3 separate regions of the Homo sapiens genome follow, and regions 1 and 2 are each linked to region 3. The links come from fine-mapping of genetic effects on gene expression. A gene starts in region 3. Each other region holds a variant in brackets. All regions are shown on one strand. Distances are between the middles of the regions.

Region 1 (8,541 bases), 770 kb before region 3:
AAATGAATGTCATAAATAATAAACATGTTGTTGAATTTTTGTCCCATAGGAGCAGCCTCTTTCATTCTCAGGATGTGCTCTCCTAATAAACTGGGACCGTGAAGGAGGGACCTGAAGCTGCCCCAAACCACCTGCAGGTCCATGAAGGCCATGCCTCCACCCACTAATCACTCTGAAAGTAGTGCCCCTCCACTCTTCCCCAACCACATTTCCTTTTCAGGCAAAAACATTTCTATGGGTTTGTTAGACCCTAGCTTCTAATCCTTTCTTCAGTCTTTACTGATCTGAAGCCACTCTCTCCTTTGAGGCTTCTAAATTATCTGTATAGCCTTTCTCCATTCAGCAAATTTTCATCAGGCAAAAATCCTACTTGACGCTAGTTATACTCAGAGTAAAATAACTATTTTCCTGTCTTAAATGAGAATTCTTCACAGGTGGAAAGCAGATTTGGAATCCACTACAACTCCAAGGCAGTGGAGCTAATGTAGCCTCCCCTGGGCTACAGGGGAAGCCTTCTTCTGTGGGCCTGGGAATTGAAGAACTAGACAGGCATAAGAAGGACAAGTGTGGTGCCCAATGGAGCAAGAGAAGGGGGGAGGAAGGTGACAGGGAAGGGAAATGGCAGGAGAAGCACCTACACAGCAGACACGGTATAACCTGCATCTGTTTTTCCTTTTGGCTGAGAGATCCCTGAGCTCTGTGGTGACAATTTTCCATAATTTTTCATATAAAAAATGAAGATTATAAACTATTTCTAGGCATTTTACCTGCATTACTATTAATATGTGTACAGCATCTAAAATAGGGCCTAGACGGCAATTGCACAGTACTATTACTTGCTATTGTTGTGGCACTTTCTGTGTGGATCACTGGCCTCATCCACTGTGCCTGGTGCTGAAGAAGTGCTTCAGGAATGAATCCACAGATTGAGATGAAAATTCACAAGCTTTCTCTTTCTCAACTCCTCCAAGGTTCTCCATCACTTTCTGAGTCCTACAGGAGGAAAGTGCTATTGAAGATGAGGCGCGTATGGCGTGAAGTTCTGGGGCTGGGAGAAGCTGCCCCGCTACTTCCGGGTGGCCTTGCCTGCAGGGAGCAGGTGAGGATCACAACTCTAGAGCGGGCTGGAATAGCTGTGCCCGCAAGCCAGGCAGTTCCAGGTGGTGCTTCTCCAACTGGAACGTGCTCTCTAATTCCGAGAGATGAAGAAGGCGAAATTGGGAAGTGAGGAGAGAGGTCTCCCTCATGACCTATTTTGGAAATCCGTATTCTTCACACTCTCAGGCTCGTAGAAGTTTGCCCAAGGCAGTATCTGAGAAGCTCCGCCCTCAATCTTGTCCTGCCAGGGATTTGGCGGCCCAAAGTACCGGCAGGCTCCTGATAACCAGGAAAATGGGTGGGGTGGCGGGCCTCCTCAGTGAGGAATTAGCTCAGGCGGTAGAGCGCTCGCTTAGCATGCGAGAGGTAGCGGGATCGACGCCCGCATTCTCCAGTTTCTTATCTGGTTTATGTCTCTTAGTTTGTATTCCCCGTTGTTTCTCCTGTTGACGACATCTGTGCCTCTTATCTGGGAGAAGATCAGAGGAAACTGCCGCCTCCCCCAAGCACGTGTTTTACTGCTCCCCATGTAAGAGTCTTGTTGCCCCTGCTTCCATCCTCCCATCTTTTCCACTCCTGCCACAGGTTTGGCACTTCTAGCTACTCAGGTCTTAATGCAAATTTCCCGTCTTTAGACAAGTACAGCTAAAAGTGATGCCCACACGATCTCTCAGTTCCTACTACATCTTCACAAATATCGTCTCCTCCAGAAAGTATGTCTTTAAGATACTGGTTTGTTTTTCTCTCCCCTAGAGTGGGAGCTTCCTGAGTACCGAAACGCTGTCTATGTACACTGTGTTCAACTCGCTTCATCCCCATGTGTAGAGTTAAAGTTCTGTAAAATACGGTTACTGCCTTGAACAGATAAGGAAACAGGGAGATCAAAGACAGAGCAATACTTAAAAACATTATCCTGCCACATTTCTAAAATCTTAATAATAGCATTCACTAATGTTTTTGGTTTTTCTTTGTGCTTTCTCCATATCCCCTTATCATTATTATTATTATTTTACATTTGGCTGACCATTTTACACTTCTTTTTCAAATGACCAATCAGATTTTGCAATTTTCTAGTTAATTCCTGTGTTTCCTTCACCATTCTATTTTCTTTTTTTTTCTTTTTCTTTTTTTTTTTTCGGGCGGCTTCTTCTTCTTCTTCTTCTTCTTCTTCTTCTTCTTCTTCTTCTTCTTACTTCTTATATTTAATGCACTGATTTCTTCTAATGTTTTGTAACTTGGGTATTCAAGGTGTAATTTAAAATGAGAAAGCAGTTTCTACAGAATCCTTAGAAATATGTCATTATAAGTCCCCATTTTCATTATATTCTAAGGAGCTTGAAGATATACTTTTGATTCTTTTTAAACTGTGCATTCGAGAATTAATCTCTTCTTGTTTACTTTTATGTTCAGTCTTTCAATGTTATTTTCTAATTTTTGTGTATCATTTTATTTATCAACACATAAATATATACATTCACATAAGTATACGAGTTATATATACATGTATTTATGAACGGCAGCTGAACCACACATTAGTGCTAATATTGGTGACTAAAAGTTGGAGAACCAGACATTATGTACCTCATAAAGCGAAGCAATGGAAAGTGCACAAGCCCACCTATCAAATTGTCTTGTTAAAAGATTTGAAGCTGAATCTAAGTGAGCCTCTACTTGTAACTACCAGTTTACAAGAAATAGAGTAGATTAAAAAACATGTCAAGGGGCAGGAAATAGATACAATGAAATAAATACAACATAGAGGTGTTTCTAAGGATAAAAGGCCCAGTTCCTTCAACAATTAACTGGCATTAACTCTTTATGATACTATAATGATAAATATATGTCATTATATATTTGTTAAAAAAAAAAAACCCAGGATGTATAACACAAAGAGCAAACTATAATGTAAACTGTGGACTTCAGTTAACAATAATGTATTACTAATTACTGGTTTACCAGTTGTAACAAGTGTACCATACTGATGCAAGATGTTAATAATAGGGAAAATTGTAAGAGAGGGAGAATGATGGAGTTTATGGAAACTCTATCTATTCTGATCAATTTTTCTTTAAACCCAGAACTTCTCTAAAAAATAATGTCTATCAATTTAAAAAAAAAGTCTATCAATTTAAAAAAATAATATCCATAAAAGAAAGACCAGGGACCTTTTATGGATGAAAAGAGTCTTAAAAAACATAAAAATCTGTAGATTTTACTTTATTATTTATAATCAGCCATTAAGAGAAATTTTTTTTGTATGGGTGACAATCAGAAAAAAAAGTTAATATTAGATCATATTTATGATCTATTACCAATTTATTAACAACAAGTACATACACACATGCAAAACACGGCCCTAAAATGTCCTAGTTCTCTCAAGCTATTGATTTCATCCTTATCTCTGCTGCTGAGTTCAAGAAAGTGAAATGTGTAATGGGTATCTCTCCTTTCCAACCTTCCTTCCAGTTCACAACCTAGTGCTGTCCACTTGCATGGGATGTTTCTTTTCCATCACAATGCTCTGAGATAACGAAGTCGAGGGAAGTTTGTGCAGCCCTCCAGACCCTCCAGATTTCAAAGGAAAGCCCACCGCTGCTGGTCTGGGGGAGCTGATGGCCTATTCATGGATGAGATGGACTAAGGACAGTGGGAAGCACAATGGACCAACAGTATTGTTGGAGGGGACTGCGTGAGGAAGCAGGAGCCTAAACAACACTCTCCAGATACTGCGTGAACACTGTCTCCAGAGGGGTCTTGTAGCATCAAAAATTAAAGCTAA[AT/T]GTTGATTTCTTTCTGGTAATTATTTTGTTCAGCAACCTGGAAAAACGAACAAAAATTATCTCATTCCCTTTCCTATCTAAAGTCTGAAATATTTAATTAAAATGATAAAATTTAAAAAAGTGTTTATTAGGCCAGGCTCGGTGGGAGGCCGAGCCGGGGGGCGGGGGAAAATCACTGGAGGCCAGGAGTTTGAGACCAGCCTGGCCAACATGGCGATACCTCATCTCTACTAAAAATACAAAATTAGCTGGGCGTGGTAGTGCACGCCTGTAATCCCAGCTACTCGGGAGGCTGAGGCAGAAGAATCGCTTGAACCTGGAAGGTGGAGGTTACAGTGAACCGACATCGCACCACTGCACTCTCAAAAAAAAAAAAAAAAAGTCTTTATTGAAAGTTTTAAACTTAAAAGTGCTCTCACATATAAATACATCATTTTCTCTATATACATGATTTTTGCAAGTATACATGTCTAGACACCCTAGGAATGGTGGTGCCGTGGTGTGAACGTGGAGCCTGGAATGGCCAGCCCCAAAACCTCCTCCTCATCAACTGTTGACTCATCAACAGTCAGTCAGTAATCATAACTTCCTTAAAATACAAGAGCCGCAGAACATTCCGGGATATCTGTGCTACTTAATCTGGCAGTTCCTACTGTGTCTTGCCCCAGGTGTGACGTGCTCTCTTCCATGAAATTAATAACTGCAAACTGTAATGGGAACAAGGCAATTGATTGTCTCCGCACTCTTGCCCAAAGCGTTCTCTGAGATGTTTGGTAGTTATTTGGGTCCTTACTTGATCTTCGTGGCCTTAAAACAAAGGGAATATGGCATTTGTGAATCTGAAAGACTTGTGATAATTTTCTCATTTCCTCCAGGCTGTGCGCATCACCCTGAGTTTGCGGAGGGATCAGCCCTTTTTCAGAGCCCCCTCACGTCCTGAGTATCATCCTCAGAATGTGGGGCTTGGGCTCAATTTGAAGAGGGTGTGAGGGAAAGCCAAAATGCAGGGATTGTCCCACAGTGCAGTCCTGCTTTGTAAATCCCTTCCTCTGACTAGCTTGATTTTAGTCTCTGAGAATGGATGGGGTGGGATGGCTTTTCAGTACTTTCTGCTGAGATATTTTTGTACATTCATTTCTCTCTCAAGGAGCCTCTATAACAAAAGAGAAAAAACTGTCTCGGGTTCTGTGTGTGGCACATGAGTTTGAAGGATTTCTGAGACTATTGTTCAGGACTGGCGTTACAGATGAAATATAGATTCAGGACCAGTGACGATGGGATCCTTGGCAGGCGGACATAACGCCTCGTTAAGGACAGACTGCCCACCACTCTCTTTCTTTCTCTCTTTCCGAATTCATTTTCTATAAATTCCACTGGGTATCAGAACCTTCCTTAGGCTGACTGGCGCTTCGCAGTCTCCCCTCCAAGCCCGGATCTGTTCCCCAAAATTCTCTCGTTCATGCTTCTAGCTTCTCTTCTTAGCTTCTCTAGGTTCTCTTCTTAGCTTCTCTAGGCTTTCCTTGTTTCCCAGGTTGAATCCCCAGTTCCAAGCGGCTCCTGTAACAGGGAGTGGGAGCCCACCCTCCCACTCGCCGTGTAGCACTCTGCATCTCTGAGAAGAAAGTGACCACCCCAGCCCAGCACAGATTTTCTTCGTCTTTGAGCACCTGCTCGGAGTTCCCGCCCCTCGTCACTCCTTGGTTTTCCCTCATTGCCTACATAGAGTCTGTTGGATGTCGGTCAAGGTATACCCAGCCCCTGCCATGGGAACCTTTTGGGGAAAAACAGACCTGATTTATTTATACTTCAAAGATGCCCAATGATTCCCTGTCGTCTGTGTACCATAAAAATAAAAACAGATAAAAATAAGAAGATCAATGTATTCGACATCTACACCCAGGCGTACAGCTCTCAGATGATCAACTGGGAAGCGACTGTTGCCCACCCAGAGGGAAGAAAGGAGCAAAGCCGGAGGATGCGGACGCAGACCCTGCAGGCCGCTGCCTCCCAAGTGAGCGGGTTACAAATTCCGCTAACCTCAGCCCCCTACCCCGCTATTGGCTATTTGAGGCATGTGGGGGATTTTTCCGGACTAGAAGTCTTGTGTTCCACCTGGTTTTTCGGGACCACTCAACATTCCTGAGCTCCATCCCTGCCAAGGTGGAGCCAGCACAGGACTGCAGGCGGAGTCTCCAGACTCATCCAGAAACAGCCACTGCGCGGAGCCGGGAGCGCGTGTCAAACGAGCACCCACAGAAGCTCTGGGCCCGACACGATTCCACTTGCTTGATATTTCAGAAAAGAAGGAATTATACCCCAGCTGTAAAGGGAATATGGGTTACAGCTATAACAAGTACCGGGAAGGTAAGCGTTCCTTGCAAAAGCTGCCTTTTCTCAGGCTCGAACATCAGGACCTTCAGATTATGAGACTGACGCGCTGCTCACTGCGCTAAGAAGACGACGAAGTGCAACGGCGCGCCAGCTTCCACAGGAATTTCCTAATTTCTTTCCCCAGGCGGGTTATTTTGGTACTTCAGTTTTATTCGCCCAAGGTCGCTAGTTTTCCAAGATTATTTCCAATAGGCACGCGTAGGATCCTTTTTAGCCCATAGGAAGAACCGCACACTCGGAAGCCATAGTGTACTGAACAATTATGCCTGATCTCATTTTCTATTGATCTGGATCTTCGTCCCCTCAGATATATTAGGCAATATTTACTGTCCAGTTCCGTTAGTTGGAATAGCGGGCTCTCACTAAATGCTAGTTGAATGAATGAAAAGCTCCCAAACATGCCTGCAGTTTACACTTACCTCTCTTAATTTAAATTTGCATTTCCACTTATGTCACCTGAGATAGTCCCCTCAAAATATCACCAACTGATTTTATGATGAGTCTTCATGTTTTCTTCACCTCTATGTTGCAAATACCCTATTAAAGATTTTATTCCCGTAATTTCATTTAGTCCAATTTCTTTATTTATTTATTTGCCATAAATCTATACATCATTATCCCCATCTTACTGATGAAACTGAGGCTCAGCAGAACTAAATCCACAGCTGATAAGGGGCAAAACCAGATCTTGAAAGCAGACTTTGTTTTCCAAAAAGTGTGCTGCCCTCTTTCTCCCTCTAGATCATGTAATCTCCCCTTTTCCTCTCCACACTACCACACTCATTTGTTAAGCAAATAGCTATAGAATTTTAGATTCGTTGGTCCATTCAACAAACTGTAATTCACCACCTGCCATGTACCCGGCATTTATGTTCTAGATTTCCAAGGCATCCTTGGCCCTTTATCCCTCACATCCCTACAAACACCTTAAATCATTAGTTCTCAAAGTGCGGTGCCCAGACCCACCACATAATTCTTGAGGACACATTCCATTTCAGGCACTGTGCTACCTGAAGGCTTTGAGGATTCAGAGGAAATTGAGCCATCCCTGACCTCAGGAGCTGACAGGACAAACTGTCCTATCCGGTCCGGTTCCTGTACTCTCAAACTTCCGGATTCTTATAAATGCATCTTCCTAAATATTTTATTTTGATACTGTAACTCCCACTCTGCACTAGTTTGCTAGGGCTGCCATAATAAATATCACAGACTGAGTGGCTTAACCAACAGAAAATTTTCTCAGTTCTGGAGGCTAGAAGGGTTGTTAGCTTTGGTTTCTCCTGAGGCCTCTCTCCTTGGCTCGCAGATGGTCACTTACCTTCTTGCTATATTCTCCCACGGTCTCTCTCTCTACACATATTTCCATCTTTTCTTATAAGAACTCCTATTGGGAGTTAGGGTTTCGACATGAATTTGATGACAGGTGGGGCGGGACAAAATTCCACCATGACAGGCTCAAAGTTGTTTACATTTTCACCTTCATATTTGCAGTAGACTTTGTTACTGGAAAGCACTACTTGCTTTTTTTTTTTTTTTTTAACACGTATTTTAAAGCCCCTTAATTAAACAGACCATATACCTTTCCTTATCTAGGAATTGCCACTCCAGTGCCTCGTCCACACATCCATTATTTCTCCTCATCTCCATTCTTCAAGGCCCATTCTTGATTCTTTCATTCTTATTTGAAAGAATGTAGCATGGAGGAATGTAGCATACTAGTTTTTCCCTCGGAATTGCATGACTCATTGTCATGCAAATTACCCAGTCTCAGGTGTTCCTTTTAGCAACACAAAATAGACTAAGGTGTGTACATTTTTGTACTTGTCAAATGTGGTTAGAATACCAAATGAGGTACTGCCTCACAGATCCCTGAGATGTCATTACTTGGCATAACAAAATCATAATATAGATATCATAATAATACATAAGCAGACAGGGAAAAATCATAGTAATAACAAAGCTCATTAAGGGATAGCCACATAAGTTTATCAGTTAGTTCTCTCTAAACTCTGTAATATGAATGTGGCCAATCTCTGGGATTTAATAATACAAAAAATATGTTTTGGTCTCCCAGTGTCATTTTAATCTTATTCAGTAGGATACATTCTTTCCCTACCTCCATATGAAGACATACACAGTTTTATGCCTCATCCCAGGCAATACAGTCTCAGTCTCAAAGTTAAGATGCTGAGCTCCATGTAACACTCTAAAATTTAAACTTGACGTAAAGATCAGATCTCTTCCTTTACCTGCTGGGGCTGTTGAGTCATGA
Region 2 (8,541 bases), 100 kb before region 3:
CCCTCTAAGTGGTGAGGGTTTAGTATATGAGCTGGCCTCTGAGTCTTCTTAAATTGATTCTCTAGCTCCAGAAAACCTTGATCTCCTGAGAGGATGGTGAAAGGAATTTGCTTGGGTAGTTGTTCATCTAGACGGCCAGCCTAAGTTAGAACAAATGGCACAGGTTGATAAAAAATCAGCATGAGTTTCAAAACAAGTTACATCTATTTCAGAATGAACACATGCCTAGGAAGGTATATTAAGCTTGTTCCCTAGTCCCTACCAAAGTATGACATAAAGATCTCCTTCAGCTGGGTGCAGTGGCTCACGCCTGTAATCCCAACACTTTGGGAGGCTAAAGCAGGTGGATCGCTTGAGGTCAGGAGTTCGAGACCAGCCCGGCCAACATGGTGAAACGCGGTCTCTATTAAAAAATGCAAAAATTAGCTGGGTGTGGTGGCATGCGCTTGTAATCCCAACTACTCGGGATTCTCCAGGCTGAGGCTGGAGAATCACTTGAACTCGGGAGGCAGAAGTTGCAGCCAAGATCGCGCCACTGCACTCCAGCCTGGGCGACAGAGTGACACTCCGTCTCAAAAAGGAAAAAAAAAAAAAGAGAGAAAGAAAGAACTCGTTCATAAATGAAATACCCCACATTTAATCAAATATAAGATGCCATTAAATTATATAAGCTATTTAATGTGCCATGAAAAGAAAAAGCCAAAATGGAAGTCCAACAGACCTCACATAAGGTTGAAATGCCAAAGGGCTATACGCTCAATATAAGGGTAAATAAGAAATAAATCTGCCATAGAGAAAAGGTAAGCAAGGCAATTTGCATGATTCAATCTTGGCATTAGATAGACTGAAAAAGAAATCTTTTGTTGTTTAAACCATAAGCTGCAGTCAACAAGTTTGCAGAGTAAATTCACATTATCAGTGTGACATGTAAGTCCCCAAGCAGAAAATTTAAAGTGGGTCTCAGTTTGGCAGTTTCTCTAGGTACCCAGCAGAGACAGAAGCAAATGCAAATTCTGTCTAGGCCAACAGTGATTGTTAAGGTACCTCTTAATTTTAGAGATATTAAAATATGAAAGTGTCTTAATATATATCAAATACAGTATCATCAGCAGGGCGCAGTGGCTCACACCTGTAATCCCAGCACTTTGGGAGGCCTAGGCGGGCAGATCACTTGAGGCCAGGAGTTTGAGACCAGCCTGGCTAACATGGAGAAACCCCGTCTCTACTAAAAATACAAGTATTAGCTGGGCATGGTGGTATGCTCCTGTAGTCCCAGCTACTTGGGAGGCTGAGGCACAAGAACCATTTCAGCCCAGGGGGCTGAGGTTGCAGTGAGCCGAGACTGCGCCACTGCACTCCAGCCTGGGTGACAGAGCGAGACTGTCTCAAAAACAAACCCAAAAAACAGTATCAGCTCTTGATCATTTATCCCACAAATAGTTGAGGGTCTACTATGGATAGCTGAAGGTTTGCTAGAAGTTGAGGATAAAGCAATAAAAATATGCTATGGGGTCCTGCCTTCATAATAGTCATAGGTAGAACCTGAAGTACTGAAGAATGATCTATAAGTCTCATTACAATTCAAGTGGGGAAAAAAATGCAAGTGGGTCTGAGATTCACATTAGATTTTGAATAAAACAATGACTCACATGCATACATATGGCAAAATCAGCAGCATCTTTTCTTTTACTACAGCGAGGATGAAGGAAGAAGCATCCAATCCTGTTCAGGTAGTTATAAATCTTACAGTTGAGCGGAGGCTTCCAATTGGTGTTTCCTCCTATTAATTTTAGAAAAGGCAAAAATGATAATCAAACAGGAGAGGAAAGGCCAAAAATTTTATCAAGAAAAAACACATACTAGAAAAAAATTTTTCTAGAGGCAAAGTACTAGATCAGAATGTGGAAGAACTCCATCCTAGCATAAGCATCAACATCTTGTTGCTTTAAAGTCTTGAGAAAGTGGACCAACTTCCCTGAATCTGTCAACTCATCTTAAAACTCACATGGATATTAGGCAAAATCAAAAGCAATGTGTGTAAAAATTCTTTGAATGGCATTATTCTATAAGTGTAAGCATAAGTGGTTTTTACAGATGTCACCACCGTTCAATGCAGAAATGATGGGCAATCACCAAAGCTCAACTTACTAAAGCAATTATACTGGCTAACTTATCCAGGTCAGTATGTTTCTATCTTTAATCCCAATCTTTCTCTTTACATGCTATTTCCTATCAAACACAAACAATAGCAGATTCTCTGTAAACCAAAGAAGCCTCTCCCCCAAGTTTGGTCAACAATTTGTAAAGAGGTTTAGATGAAGCTGAACACTTAAGAACAGCAAGGATGAACCGAAGAGGCAGTTATGGCATGTTGAAAATAACATTAGTCCTATAGCTGAGAGGCCAAATAATTCTGCTATTTATTAGTTTTAAAACTTTGAGGGAAAAAAAACAAAAACAAAAACAAAACATCTGCTTCTTTGTATTTTAAAAGGGATAAAACCATAATAATCAGTAACCATGTTAGTACAAAGCCAAAGCACCTGACACATTTTAGGTGTTGAATAAAGGCTTTTTCAATCTGTATCAAAAGATCCATAAACTTTTTTTTTTTTTTTTTTTTTTTTTTAAGACAGAGTCTCACTCTGTTGCCCAGGCTGGAGAGCAGTGGTGCGATCTCAGCTCACTGCAAGCTTCGCCTCCTGGGTTCACACCATTCTCCTGCCTCAGCCTCCCAAGGAGCTGGGACTACAGGGGCCCGCCACCACGCCCAGCTAATTTTTTGTATTTTTTTTTTCTTTTTAGTAGAGACGGGGTTTCACCATGTTAGCCAGGATGGTCTCGATCTTCTGACCTCGTGATCCGTCCGCCTCAGCCTTCCAAAGTTCTGGGATTACAGACGTGAGCCACCGCGCCCGGCCAAAAGATCCATAAACTTTGAGTCACCAGATAGAGCTAACATTTACCACAGAGGCATGTAAAGAAAACGATTCTAGCAGAGTAACTATAATACAAAAGAACAATATTCCAATTATGTTCCTATGTTCTATCCAGGAAGGTTTAAGAGGAGCCTTTTAAACTGAACTATATTCTAAGAGGTGGGAAAAAGTTTTCTTTTGTTTTTCTTATTAACCGTACCTTGAAAGCCCCAAATAAATGTTCCTTGGTTTAGATGCCCTGGTAGATGACCAAAAAAGTTTGACCAGTTATCAAAATCTACAAAGACTATATGAGTCATGGTTCGCAGGTAATCCAAATCTGGAAGCTCAACAATTTCTTCCTCTGAGAAGAGAGAAATATCAACATGAGTTCAGTAAGAATTTGCTAAAATCATTCTGATTTCAAGTCCAAAAAGTATTAGAAGCCTAATATGCAAAAATACTAACCTTGAATGTTACTCATTTCTATCTAAACCTTTTTGTGAAATCCAAATCTGTACATGACACCATTTACACTTAAATCAGATAAAAATAATCTGAACATTTCACCAATTTTGGTTATATATCCTTCTTGCAAACATTTTCTTCCAACAACTCTAAAGCTTGTTAAAAAGTCACTTATACAAGGAATTTTTTTAAAAAATTAATGTACTAGAAGAACTAGAAAACCAAGTTTTAAGGTTAAATAAGCAAAAACTAATACCACCCATATAAAATTCCAAGGTTACCTATTAAGAACATTTTCACCACCAGAATTTGGTTCTTTTCCCAGTCTGGACTGATTTATTAGTAGCCCTCTAGTTCTAGGATTAAACACCCTAGAGAGCAGAAATAAGATAACCTAGAATCCTGCTGCCATAAAGCAGTGCTAGAAATATGTGCCAGTGGTACAGAGACACCTCCCCCTATAAACACATCTTCTTGGTTCTCTCAGATTCTTCTTTCACCTTCCCCCATGCCCCAACTCTCATTCTCCCTCCCCTTTATCTTGTTTCATACTTTTCCACTTTGACAAGGCCTTAAAGTTTCCTGTGGTAACAATGCAAACTTTAAAATGTTATATTATTTAAAAAATGAATAGTTTCTATTCTAATAGTTCCTTCAAATATACTACTGCCATTCCCTTCCATTTCCAAGCCACCTTACGTCTTTTCTCTAACTTCTCGGTAATTCTAGATTTAGGTATTGCATTTTCTATCAAACACAGACTAACACAAATTCCAAAAAAAAAGTAAACAGAAGCGCAAAAGAAAGGCCTAACATAAAATGGTGTAACCAGTGTTTCACTGTTTAGAGTTGACTAGGTAGCTCATGATTTAATTCTTTACCACTGAAAACATGCCATGACTAAAGGTGATGTTGAAATCTACATATGGTATAGAGCAAGACT[C/G]TAAAAATTCAATAGTTCATAAAAATACATTACTGGCCAAAATTTTCACATATTCTCACTGTACCCAAATATGCTACATTGTATAACTCACCAAGAATTAGTATTTATTTAAAAGAATATAGACTTAAGTCAGGTGTGGTGGCTCACACCTGTAATCCCAACACTTGGGGAGGCTAAAACAGGAGGATTGCTTAAGGCCAGGAGTTCAAAACCAGCCTGGGCAACATAGTAAAATCCCATCTCAAAAAAATTTTACAAATAAAAGAAGATACACTTAAAATTATACTCTAAACAAAAACAAATTATACTTCTAAACAAAACAAATTATACTTCTAAACAAAATAAAAACATAACACCTGCCTAGACTTACTTAATCCTATCATATGGAAGAAAGAAAGTCTGGAGTAAGTACAAACAAGGAATTCATATTTCAATTTTCCCCCTGGTTTCCTGCTACCACTTTAACTCTACTTCTAATTGCTATTTTAATTGTATGTTAAAGCTTTTCTTCCAAGTTAATCATAACAAAAATATACAAATGCTGAAATGACCTTTAAAATGTCTCACACTAAAGAATATGGCCAAATAGAAACAAAAAGAATTCACGTGATTTATCTTTTTAGTTAACCCAAATATTACAAGAAAAATCTAAATGATATTAATACTAGGATAACTTTGAAATCTAACTTTCAGAAAAACTATCAACTTCCTTCATCTTCAAAATCTCCACACCTTTTGTAAAATAAAATGATATCTAAAATATATATTATTTAAAGCCAACATATACTCTGTCCTCGTAAGTTTAGAAAGTGGATAAATGTAGTAGTAGGAATACAAACCCCTAAAATGTATATACCATAATAATTAACATACCATCAAGAAGTTACCCTGTTTCTTGCTTCAAAATTGAATCGAGGTGGGTACATTGTAAGTTTCAATATCAGTATATGAAATTTGCATAGAGCTATAAAGCCATACCTATATTCTGATAGCTTAGGTCATTCTCAACTCCTTTCTCCATGTCTAAACTTTTTGAATAGTTTATTGCCTGTTTCAGTTTTCTCTCTGTATGTGAGGCACTAGCAGTAAACTTGTACAGGTTTGATTTTTCAGATCCAAAATGAGCCACACTGGGTTTCTGTAAGAAGCAATGTTTTCTATGGAAATGCTGCTGTGCACTCTCAGGATCATGAAATGCTTTGGTGCAGGTGCCACACTTGATTACATACTGCTGCTCCTCCTCATCACTCTTTTCTTTGTGCACTTGATGGATATGAGTGTTCATGTCGGTTAAATTCTGTGCTGTTGCCGAACATAAACTGCAGCGAAACCACAGTTTTCCTTTATCCAGCATGATTTGGAGACATCTGCTATAATCTTCTTTTCTGTTGACTTTACAGATGTAACTCTCACGGCAACCACAAGTTAACTGGTTACTGGTCTCTATTACTGGAAAATCATCTTCGGTTTTAATTGAAGTTTCAGTTTTTTCTGACACAAATACATAATCTATGCTGTGGTGCTCCTCATAATGACTCAGAAATGCTTCTTCCACATTAAAGATAAGATCACAAAGCCCACAGAAGTATTTAATCTTTATCTCATTGTCATGCTCATCTTGGCAATGTCGGTACAATGTTTCTATCTTATGAAAAGGCTTTCTGCAGTGAGCACAGCTGTATCTATGAAACTTGTGGCTTGCCAAAGACATGCAGTGCTGTTTTACATATTCCTGGGAATCAAACATATCTTCACAAATCCGGCATTGCCATTTACCCCTCGGAGAACTATTTGCCGGGGAATGATCAATAACAGTAATAGCTGATGAAGGCTTGTTAGCAGTCAAATTATCCAATGTTGTAGAGGATGATGGCAAAGTTTCACCTTCTACCTCATCCATCTCATAAAAATATCTGTGTCCATTATGAAATTCAGTCACATGTGCCATGATAGTATCTTTCCTTGTTAACTCCTTTTTGCATGTCCGACACCAGAAAAGAAAGTTATTTAAATGTGCCCCTCCGTGAATCCGGCTCATGTGTAAACGAATGACCCCTGAATCATCACATACCTTTCCACAGACCACACATTTATAACCCATTGTGTTTGCTGAGAAAACATGCTTTTCTACTGCATCTTCACTTGGGAATCGCTGATTGCATTCACAGAACCAGGTTTTAACTACTGATTTTTCTTTCTGGACACAAGCAACACCTTCATGGCTTTTATCTTTTAAATTCATCTTCTTTTTTGGAATGGCAATGCACTCCAGTGAGCTAGATTCTTTAATAGACATGGTTCTTTTAAGTGATGAAAATTTTGATTGATCCAACAATAAATGCAAGTCAGAAGAAGGATCCTTGTTCCCTTCGCTGCTGTGGCAATAGAGTAAGACTGATTCTTCCACTGAGTTAATGACTCGGACTTTGTGTCCTGAATTCTGCTTATGATTTTGGGTGCTGGTTTCATCCACAAAGACTTGATTGCAATCTGGACAATAACCTCTTAATATGAATTTCTCTGCAACCTGGGTAATGCTCTTCTCAGCTACAGCTACAGGTCCAGCATTTCGACAATGAACTCTAAATTAGATAAAAAGAAATAGAAAGTCTTTCAGAAGTATTTTCTAAATATACCATTGCTGCATTTTATTGCAGGAATTATAAAATAACCAACGTATAAATAAGCACTAAAAGATACTTTTCAATAAAGATGCAAATGACATAATGATGTTCTATCATCTCAAAATACTTGAGTATTATCTGCACTTTATCTATTTCTAGTTAAAATACAAAAGGCTAAAACTAGATTCAAAATTTTTTAAATTCAGGCAAATTTTAGAAAACTAAAATCTGTATCAAAAGCACTGACAGAGGACCTTATTGAACAGGCAAATTATTAGACTCTCCATGGTAATTAAACTGTATGTAAGAACACTATGGTTAAGATTCTAGACAACCCAGTTCCTATTCTTTAATAACTGATTAATGTTGATACTATAAGGCTATGGTAACCAAAACAACATGTACTGGTATAAAAACAGACACACAGATCAATGGAACAGAATAGAGAACCCAGCAATAAAGCCACATACCTACAAACTACTGATCTTTGATGAAATTGACAAAAATAGACACTGGGGAAAGGACACCCTATTTAATAAATGGTGCTGATAAAACTTGACAGCCATATGCAGAAGAATAAAACTGAACCCATATCTTTCATCATATACAAAAAATAACTCAAGATGGATTAAAGGCTAAGACCTGAAACTATAAAAATTCTAGAAGAAAACCTAGGAAAACCCCTTCCGGACAATGGCCTAGGCAAAAAATTTATGACTAAGTCCTCAAAAGCAAATGCAACAAAGCCCTAAAATAGACAAATGGGACTTAAAAGCTTAAGCATAGCAAAAGAAATAATCAAGAGAATAAACAGACAACTTACAGAATGGGAGAAAATATCTGCAAACTATGCATCTGACAAAGGACTAATATTCAGAATCTACTAGGAACTTAACAAGAAAAAAATCCACAAATAATCCCATTAAGAAGTGGGCAAAGGACATGAACAGACATTTTTCAAAAGAAGACATACAACTGGCCCATAAATACTCAACATTACTAATCATCAGAGAACTTCAAATTAAAACAATGCGATACCATCTTACACCAGTCAAAATGGCTGTTATTAAAAAGTCAAAAAACAACTGATGTTGGCAAGGATACAGAGAAAAGGGAACACTTATACACTGTTGATGGAAATGTAAATTAGTACAACCTCTATGGAAAACAATATGGAGCTTTCTTAAAAAACTAAAAATAGAACCGCCCTTTGATCCAGCAGTCCCACTACTGGTATCTACCTTAAGAAAAAGTAAGCATTATATCAAAAAGACACCTACACTTGTACATTTACCGCAGCACTATTGACAATAGCGATAATGAATGGAATCAACCTAAGTGTCCATCAATGGATTATTGAATAAAGAAAATATGGTATATATACCATGGAATACTACTGAGTCATAAAAAAGAATGAAATCATGCCTTTTGAAGCAACATGTATGGAACTGGAGGCCATTATCCTAAGTGAAATAACTCAGAATGTCAAATACTGCAAATTTTCATTTCTAAGTGGGAGTTAAACAATGGGTACACGTGGACATATAGAGTGGAATAATAAACAGATATTGAAAACTCCAAAAGGTGG
Region 3 (8,541 bases):
TTAACTGAAATGATTATCAGTAATCTCGAAGTTCTTTGATAACCCTGCTTTATCCTCCACATCACTGTACAGCCAAACATCAAACTCTGAGTCTTCTTGATCCTTTCTTTACATATACACTACCCTCATCATAGACCAGGCCATAAATGCCCTAGTCAAAATCCTAGATTTTATTCTGTAGGCAAAGGAATCAATAAATAACATCAAGATGGGAACATTATTAGAGCTGTTTCAAGAAGGTTAACCACATAAGAGAGCATGTGGGAAGAATACAAACAAGATAATCAATCTAGACAAATGGTAATGTGGTACAAAAATAGTGATGGCAAGGAGGAAGTAACCTTCCCTGTATAGGTACTATATTTCAATAAAATTTACATTAAGATAAGGACTCTTTTTGTATCCCCAAATCTTTTATCATTCCTTTCTTTCAGCATATTGTTTATTTTGGAGGCTAGGTACATGACAGAACACAAAGAGGATTCTGTGCCACAACGCAGAATGAAGGCTAGATAATCAACATTTATATGAAAAGACTAAGGAATCCAAACCAGAATATATCAAGAAGTAACAAACTTTTTTTTCTTTTAATCTGAAGAACCCACAAGCAGAGAACTATACCCAGCAGCATTGCATCTTTACTGGATGGTACTATAAAAAACACAGAGAAATAAGCATATCCTGGTAGAGCCCAGTATAGGATGGGGTTACAAAGGAAAGTTGTCTCTGAGTGTATTTCAAAGTGGAATTAAGTTATCATTGTCTTTTATGTGGCACCACTGAAATGCAACAGGGATGTTTTACTACATTCTTTCTGGTACTGCAATTACACTGACAGCATGTAATTCACTTCTCCATATAAGAGCTGTCAAACCTTTGATCTTCTATTTTGAACAGGGTTAAATATAAAGGGTTCTATCACGCTGGATATACAAAATATTGTATGAAAAGATGTAGAAGGATCTTTATATTTAAAATAAAATTTAAAGTAAGAGTTTTAAACCTCAGCTAAACACAGCCTATATATTAACTCACAATTTAAAATATAATGATTTATTCCTCAGGATATTACACAAATCTATACCTATTTACTTTTCCAAACTTAATTTTGTACATCCCATCTGTGTTTCTCAACGGCACATGGATCATGAATCAGACGTATGTCACTTCTACATACTTTCTCAATGGCACATGGATCATCAATCAGACGTGTGTCACTTCTACATACAGATGCACAAAAAACTCATCAAGATCATCTGTCCCAATCATTCCTGTTTTTATACCAGTTAAGAGGAAACCAAAATTATTTTTCCTAAAGACCCATGAACTCCTCTTCCCAAATGTTTCTCGTTACAAAAACAGAAACCATTGCTCTTTGATTTCAAGTTACGTTGCTTACTCCATAACAACAGTGAAGGCAGAGTCAGCATACAATCTCCCTTGGTATCATCAATATTTAGAAAGGTTCCAAATGTCAGGAACAAAATATACACACACTATTAATTGGGAAATATGTCCAGAAAGTGACAGGGTAAAGAACTTATACACAAAACACGAAAAACAAACAACGATGTTAACAAAACAATGTTTAGGGAGGAAATTTTAATTTAAAAAACAAGTGACTTACAAAGTCGCCCTAAACCTACAAAAACTAAAAAACACAGAAACATTAGACAGACACTCCATTAAAGAAAAATTCTACAGCCTGAATACCAAACTGCAACTAACTACGGCATTCCAAAAGACGAGTTGGGGACAGAACTGTTTTCTGCCTGGCGAGCTGAGATACCACTTTACGCAAAGCCTTTCTAAAACTCCAACAATTATGGATGAAAATCACCCCAAAATATATCATAAAACACTCCCTTCTGCTTTAGAAACCCATTCTGTCCAAAGTGTGCTCAGAAATCCTTATGTCCCTGCACTTGTCTGAAAATGAAGATTCCTAGGCCCCCGCCTGGAAATTCTGATTCGGTAGGTCTGCAGTGGGGCCCAGGAATCTGCCTGTTTATACTTACTAAGGCTTGAAAACTACTGTCTCAAAGGGAACAAACTCAGAAAAATAGAGCATGTTCCCAGTGATGTAGGATTCTTCATTATGAGCATCAACTGTACTATGCCGTAACATGATGATCTCAGAGGTTAGAGAAATCTTCAAGCTATTTGCCTTCATGTTAGAAGCACCATAACGCTAAGATTCTGGGCTCTCACAACCCTTCCTGTTTTCTACGTCCTTGCTCATCATTAGCAGCTCCTTCCTCCGTGTCGCCTTTAGAAGTTACTCTTGCTCCATTTCAAAACAGCGTTTTAGACACCAGCGTTTTTATCTTAAGTTTAAATGAAAGGCAGGGGGCGAGATTAAGTGTACAGCACGTTCTTTAGGACGTGCTCTTTGTGATGGCTACGGGGGTGGCTCAGATAGCTCTTTTGGTAAATTTCCCAATCCTGCGCCATGCTCCAGTGTCTAGTATGTATTAGACACTCATGAACATTAAATGACCAGGTGAGGTAACATTACATAATGGCCCACCATAGTCTTTTACTCTGGGAAAACCCCAATCATCATTGCTACTTACACTGACAAACTGAATGTCGTCTTCATTTTCATCCGTTGTTGACTCAGATGCCTCAGGGCCAGCTGGAGGGACAGATTCTATTATCTATAAAAACAAGCCAAAACATGCTTATCTGTTCAGCCACATTCGTGTAGGAAGAGAGCGTTTCCGAAAGGAACAATTAAAGACAGAGAGCTCTTGAGGAAAACGAACTGAGCACAATTTCACGGAAACCCGACTAGGAACGGAACTCGAGCTCTGGCTCTTGCCACAGAGTGTGCGGAGCTGCAGGGACCCAACGCTGAAAACGCGTTAGTTACCAGCCTCTCACAATTCCCCTTATCTACTCCAGGAGGAACGCAAGCTCAACACCGAAGGGCAATCCTGCCTTAAAACGTCGCTCCCACTGGCCCAGCCGCGGCCACAACGAACGCCAGGGCCCGTGCGGGGGGCCGGGCGGCCATTGTTGCTGCGGGTTCCTCGCTCAGACACGCACCAGGCCCCAGAGCTGGGCTCGGCCCAAGACACTGAAGAGGTATCGCCCCGAGGCTGCGACGGAGCACCAGGCCTCAGACCGCAGAAAACACAAACCCTTCGCGGTTCGCCTCTGAGAACGCCAGGACCCTCACTCGACTACTCACTTCCGACCCCGGGTCTCCCATGTCTCCGACGGCCGCGCTGACAGCACCACTGCTCCTGCTGTCCCTACTGCCGCAGCCGCCACCACTCCCCTTCCCGCCCTGCACCGCCTCGCGCTACCGGGACCCGCCCCTGCGTGAGCTGGGAGGCCACTGGCGGAAAGAGACGAAAACCGCTTCAAAAGAGGGGCAGCCCTCACTGGTCCGCTATCTCCCCGGAGCCTCTTTCTCTCATTCCCGGGCTTCCTTCCCCGCGCCGCAGAGGATGCTGGGATGGTAGTTCCTACCCGCCGCGCGACCGCGCCGCGCGACTGCCCCGCGCGTGGGTGAAGAATGGAAAAAGACTCTGAGCTACAGCGAAGTCGTCTCCCTTCGGTGTTGCTCTACTATAATAAAATAGCCGAGTTCTTTCTCTCACTTTTTCACAACCAAATATTCGTCTATGTAATAGATCAATGGGAATGAAAAAAAATTGTGTGTGATTTGCTCAGAAATTGCCTTACCAAAATCGTGGCTCACCTTTTTATTTTAACATTTATTCACAAATGATTTTAAACATGAAATTTATGAAAGCAAATTTTAACAGAGAATATTCTTTTAAAGCTTTTATTTGTTTACCTCTATCAGCCTAGGACCACCTGTTATTGACAAGTCTGTAGTCCCAGAAAATCACCTTTATCATTTTGACCCTGATCTACAATGCACAAAATTATACAACAAAGGAGCTATGAGGTATCTGATTAGCCAACTGATCTTCAGCAAAGCAAACAAAAACATAAAGTGGGGAAAGGACACCCTTTTCAACAAATGGTGCTGGGATAATTGGTGACCCACATGTAGAAGAATTAAACTGGATCCTCATCTCTCACCTTATACAAAAATCAACTCAAGATGCATCAAAGACTTAAATCTAAGACCCGAAGTCATAAAAATTGCTCAAGATAACACCGGAAAAATACCTTCTAGACATTGGCTTAGGCAAAGACTTCGCGATGAAGAACCCAAAAGCAAATGCAACAGAAACAAAGATAAATAGACTGAACTTAATTAAACTAAAAAGCTTCTGCACAGCAAAAAAAATAATCAGCAGAGTAAACAGACAACCCACAAAGTGGGAGAAAAGGAGAACATAGGAACAAAGGAAAACATAGACTTACTAGGATTTTAAGGAGTTGGTGAAATTTAAGTGAAGCAGTGTTTTGATAGGTTCAAAACCGTCTAGTGCTGTGTGTAAAGGGTTCAACATCACATACGGACTGCATAGCGAGCCCAGGGTCTTGTTAACTTCAAAACTACAAAGTTAACACACACAGAGTATTGTGCTCAGAAACCCCTTCCTCCGTGTAGCCATGCCCTAAGTGTGTGGATTTATTTCTGGGTACTGTATTCTGTTCCATTTGTCTGTGTGTCTGTTTTTATACCAGTACCATGCTGTTTTGGTTACTATAGCTCTGTAGTAGAATTTGAAGTCATGTAATGTGATTCCTCCAGTTTTGTTCTTTTTGCTCAGGTTAGCTTTTGCTATTATTCTCGGTCTTTTGTGGTTCCACATAAATTTTAGAATTGTTTATTCTGCTTCTGTGAAGAATGTCATTGGTATTTTGATGGGGATTGGATTCAATCTGTAGATTGTTTTGGGTAGTATGGGTAGTATGGACATTTTTTAAAAATAAAAATGTATTTTTTATTTCAATAGGTTTTTAGGAAGCAGGTGGTGTTTGGTTACATGCATAAGTTCTTTAGTGGTGGTTTCTGAGATTTTGGTGCACCCATAACCCAAGCAGTGTATCCTGTACCCGATGTCTTTAATCCCTCACCCCCTCCCACCCTTTCCCGAGTCCCTGAAGTCCTATGTGTCATTCTTATGCCTTTGTGTCCTCATAGCTTAGCTTCCACTTATCAGTGAGAACATACAACATTTGGTTTTCCATTCCTGAGTTACATCACTTAGAATAATAGTCTCCAGTTCCATCCAGATTGCTGTGAATACCAGTATTTGCTCCTTTTTATGGCTGAGTACTATTCCATTGTGTGTGTGTGTGTGTGTGTGTGTGTATGTATGTGTATATACACCATTTTCTTTATCCTCTTGTTGATTGATGGGCATTTAGGCTGGTTCTATATTTTTGCAATTACGAATTATGCTCCTATAAATATGCATGTGCAAGGATCTTTTTTGTATAATGACTTATTTTTCTGTGGTTATTCCTCTTCCTAGTAGTCAGATTGCTGGATCAAATGGTAGATCTACTTTTAGTTCTTTAAGGAATATCCACACTGTTTTCCATAATGGTTGTACTAGTTTACATTTCCACTAACAGTGTAAAAGTGTTCTCTTTTCACCACATCCATGCCAACGTCTATTATTTTTTGATGTTTTGATTATGGCCATTCTTGCAGGAGTAAGGTAGATTTGCAGTGTAGTTTTGATTTACATTTTCCTGATAATTAGCTGTGTTGAGCATTTTTTCCATATGTTTGTTGGCCATTTGCATATCTTCTTTTGAGAGTTGTCTATTCATGTCCTAAGCCCACTTTTTGATGGGGTTGTTTTTTTTTTTCTTGCTGATTTGTTTGAGTTCTTTGTAGATTCTGGATATTAGTCCTTTGTCAGATGTATAGATTGTGAAGATTTTCTCCCAGTCTGTGGGTTGTCTGTTAACTCTGCTGATTTTTTCTTTTGCTGTGCAGAAGCTTTTTAGTTTAATTAAGTCCTGTCTATCTTTGTTTCTGTTGCATTTGCTTTTGGGTTCTTGGTCATGAAATCTTTGCCTAAGCCAATGTCTAGGTTTTTTCCGGTGTTATCTTGTACAATTTTTATGGTTTCAGGTCTTAGATTTAAGTCTTCGATGCATCTTGAGTTGATTTTTGTATAAGGTGAGAGATGAGGATCCAGTTTAATTCTTCTACATGTGGGTCACCAATTATCCCAGCATCATTTGTTGAAAAGGGTGTCCTTTCCCCACTTTATGTTTTTGTTTGCTTTGCTGAAGATCAGTTGGCTACAAGTATTTGGCTTTATTTCTGGGTTTCTATTCTGTTCTGTTGGTCTATGTGCCTATTTTTATACCAGCACTACGCTGTTTTGATGACTATGGCTTTGTATATAGTTTGAAGTTGGGTAATGTGATGCCTCTAGATTTCTTGTTTGTGCTTAGTCTTGCTTTGGCTATATGGGCTCTTCTTTGGTTCCCTATGAATTTTAGGATTGTTTTTCCTAGTTCTGTGAAAAACGATGGTAGTATTTTGATGGGAATTGCATTGAGTTTGTAGATTGCTTTTGGCAGTATGATCATTTTCACAATATTGATTCTATCCATGAGCATGGGATGTGTTTCCATTTGTTTGTGTCATCTATAATTTCTTTCAGCAGTGTTTCGTAGTTTTCCTTGTAGAGGTCCTTCACCTCCTTGGTTAGGTGTATTCTTAAGTACCTTATTTTATTTATTTATTTAATTTTTATAGGTATTGTAAAAGAGGTTGATTTCTTGATTTGATTCTCAGCTTGGTCGCTGTTGGTGTATAGCAGAGCTACTGATTTGTGGACATTAATTTTGTATCCTGAAACTTTACTGAATTCATTTACCAGTTCCAGGAGCTTTTTGGATGGGTCTTTAGGGTTTTCTAGGTATATGATCATATCATCAGCAAAAGCAACAGTTTGACTTCCTCTTTACCAGTTTGGATGCCCTTTATTTCTTTCTCTTGTCTGATTGCTCTGACTAGGACTTCCAGTACTATGTTGAACAGAAGTGGTGAAAGTGGGCATCCTTGTTTCATTCCAGTTCTCGGGGGGAATGCTTTCAACTTTTCCCTGTTCAGTATAATGTTGGCTATGAGTTTGTCATAGATGGCTTTTATTACTTTAAGCTATGTCTCTTAAACATAGAGTTGATTTTAAGTGCCTTGAGGTAATCTTCTTTGGGTTAAATCTGCTTGATGTTATATAATCTTCTTGTACTTGGATAATAGTATGTTTCCCTAGTTTTGGAAAGTTCTCTGTTATTATCCCTTTGGATAAACTTTCTCTCTTTTTTTTTTTTTTTTTTTTTGAGACAAAGTCTCGCTCTGTCACCCAGGCTGGAGTGCAATGGTGCAATCTCGGCTCACTGCAACCTCCACCTCCCAGGTTCAAGTGATTCTCCTGCCTCAGCCTCCTGAGTAACTGGGACTACAGGCACCCGCCACCACGCCTGGCTAATTTTTGTATTTTTAGTTGAGACAGGGTTTTGCCATGTTTGCCAGGCTGGTCTTGAACTCCTGACCTGATCCACCCGCCTCAGCCTCCCAAAGTGCTGGGAATACAGGCTTGAGCCACCATGCCCGGACCCTTTGGATAAACTTTCTACCCCTGTCTCTCTCTCTAGCTTTTCTTTAAGGCCAATACCTCTTAGGTGTGCACTTTTGAGGCTATTTTCTGGGTCTTGTAGGTGTGCTTCATTCTTTTTTATTCTCTTTTGTCCTCTCTGACTGTATATTTTCATGTAACCGTCTCCAAGTTCACTTATTCCTTCTTCTGCTTGGTCAACTCTACTACTGAGAGACTCTGATGAATTCTTCAGTATGTCAATTGCATTTTTCAACTCCCGAATTTCTGCTGGATTCTATTTAATTATTTCAATTTCTTTGTTAAATTTACCTGATAGGATTCTGAATCCCTTCTCTGTGTTAGCTTGAATTTCTTTGAGTTTTCTCAAAATAGCTATTTTGAATTCTCTGTCTGAAAGGTCACATATCTCTGTCTCTCTGGGATTGGCACCTGCTATTTAGTTTATTTAGTGAGGTTGTATTTTCCAAAGTGATCTTGATTCTTATGTACGTTCATCACTGTCTTGGCATCAAAGAGTTGGGTATTTATTGTTGTCTTCACAGTTTGGGCTTGTTTGTACACCTCCACCTTGAAAAGGCTTTCCAGGTATTTGAAGGGACTTGGGTGATATAATCTAAGTTTTTGGTCGCTGCAGCCATATCTACATTAAGGGCACCCCAAGCCCACTAACACTGTAGTTCTTGCAGACTCGTAGAGGTACCACCTTGGTGGTCTTGAATAAGATCCGGAAAAATTATCTGGATTACCAGACAAAGACTCTTGCTCTCTTCCCTTATTTTCTCCCAAACAAACACAGTCTCTCCCTCTGTGCTGAGCTTCCTGAAGCTAGATGAGGGGTGACATAAGCACCGCTGTGGCCACCAATACTGGGACTGGGCTGGGTCAAACCTGAAGTGAGCATAGTACTGAGTCTTACCTACGGCCTGCTGTAACCACTATCTGGCTGCCACCTATATTTGCTGAAGTCTCCAGGGCTCTGCAATCAACAAGTAGTGAAGCCAGCCAGTCTTGTTTCCTT

Evidence for each region. PIP is the estimated chance that this variant, and not a neighbour inherited with it, causes the effect.
Region 1: its variant is fine-mapped to the expression of KIAA1586 in hypothalamus (GTEx, PIP 0.93).
Region 2: its variant is fine-mapped to the expression of KIAA1586 in whole blood (INTERVAL, PIP 0.97).

Annotation. Positions count from the first base shown.
Region 1 is chr6:57,806,441-57,814,981 of GRCh38, reverse strand. It overlaps LOC105375102 (a long non-coding RNA gene), which reads left to right. Exons shown (of 4, transcript XR_926901.3): 3 at 972-1,099; 4 at 3,565-3,841. Among named protein-coding and RNA genes, the nearest start is that of TRA-AGC24-1, 5.3 kb to the left of the region's middle. The variant AT/T (reference allele first, on the strand shown) is at 3,878.
Region 2 is chr6:57,145,460-57,154,000 of GRCh38, reverse strand. ZNF451 (zinc finger protein 451) reads right to left here. Exons shown (of 15, transcript NM_001031623.3): 10 at 5,308-6,911; 11 at 3,139-3,282; 12 at 1,650-1,780; 13 at 1-140. The region is part of intron 2 of ZNF451-AS1 (ZNF451 regulatory antisense RNA 1); the gene reads left to right. Among named protein-coding and RNA genes, the nearest start is that of ZNF451-AS1, 22 kb to the left of the region's middle. The variant C/G (reference allele first, on the strand shown) is at 4,330.
Region 3 is chr6:57,041,432-57,049,972 of GRCh38, reverse strand. It overlaps KIAA1586, which reads right to left and starts at 3,280. Exons shown (of 4, transcript NM_020931.4): 1 at 3,197-3,280; 2 at 2,577-2,660. The coding sequence starts at 3,217. RefSeq lists enhancers at 1,815-2,692, 3,509-3,598 and a silencer at 4,228-4,522.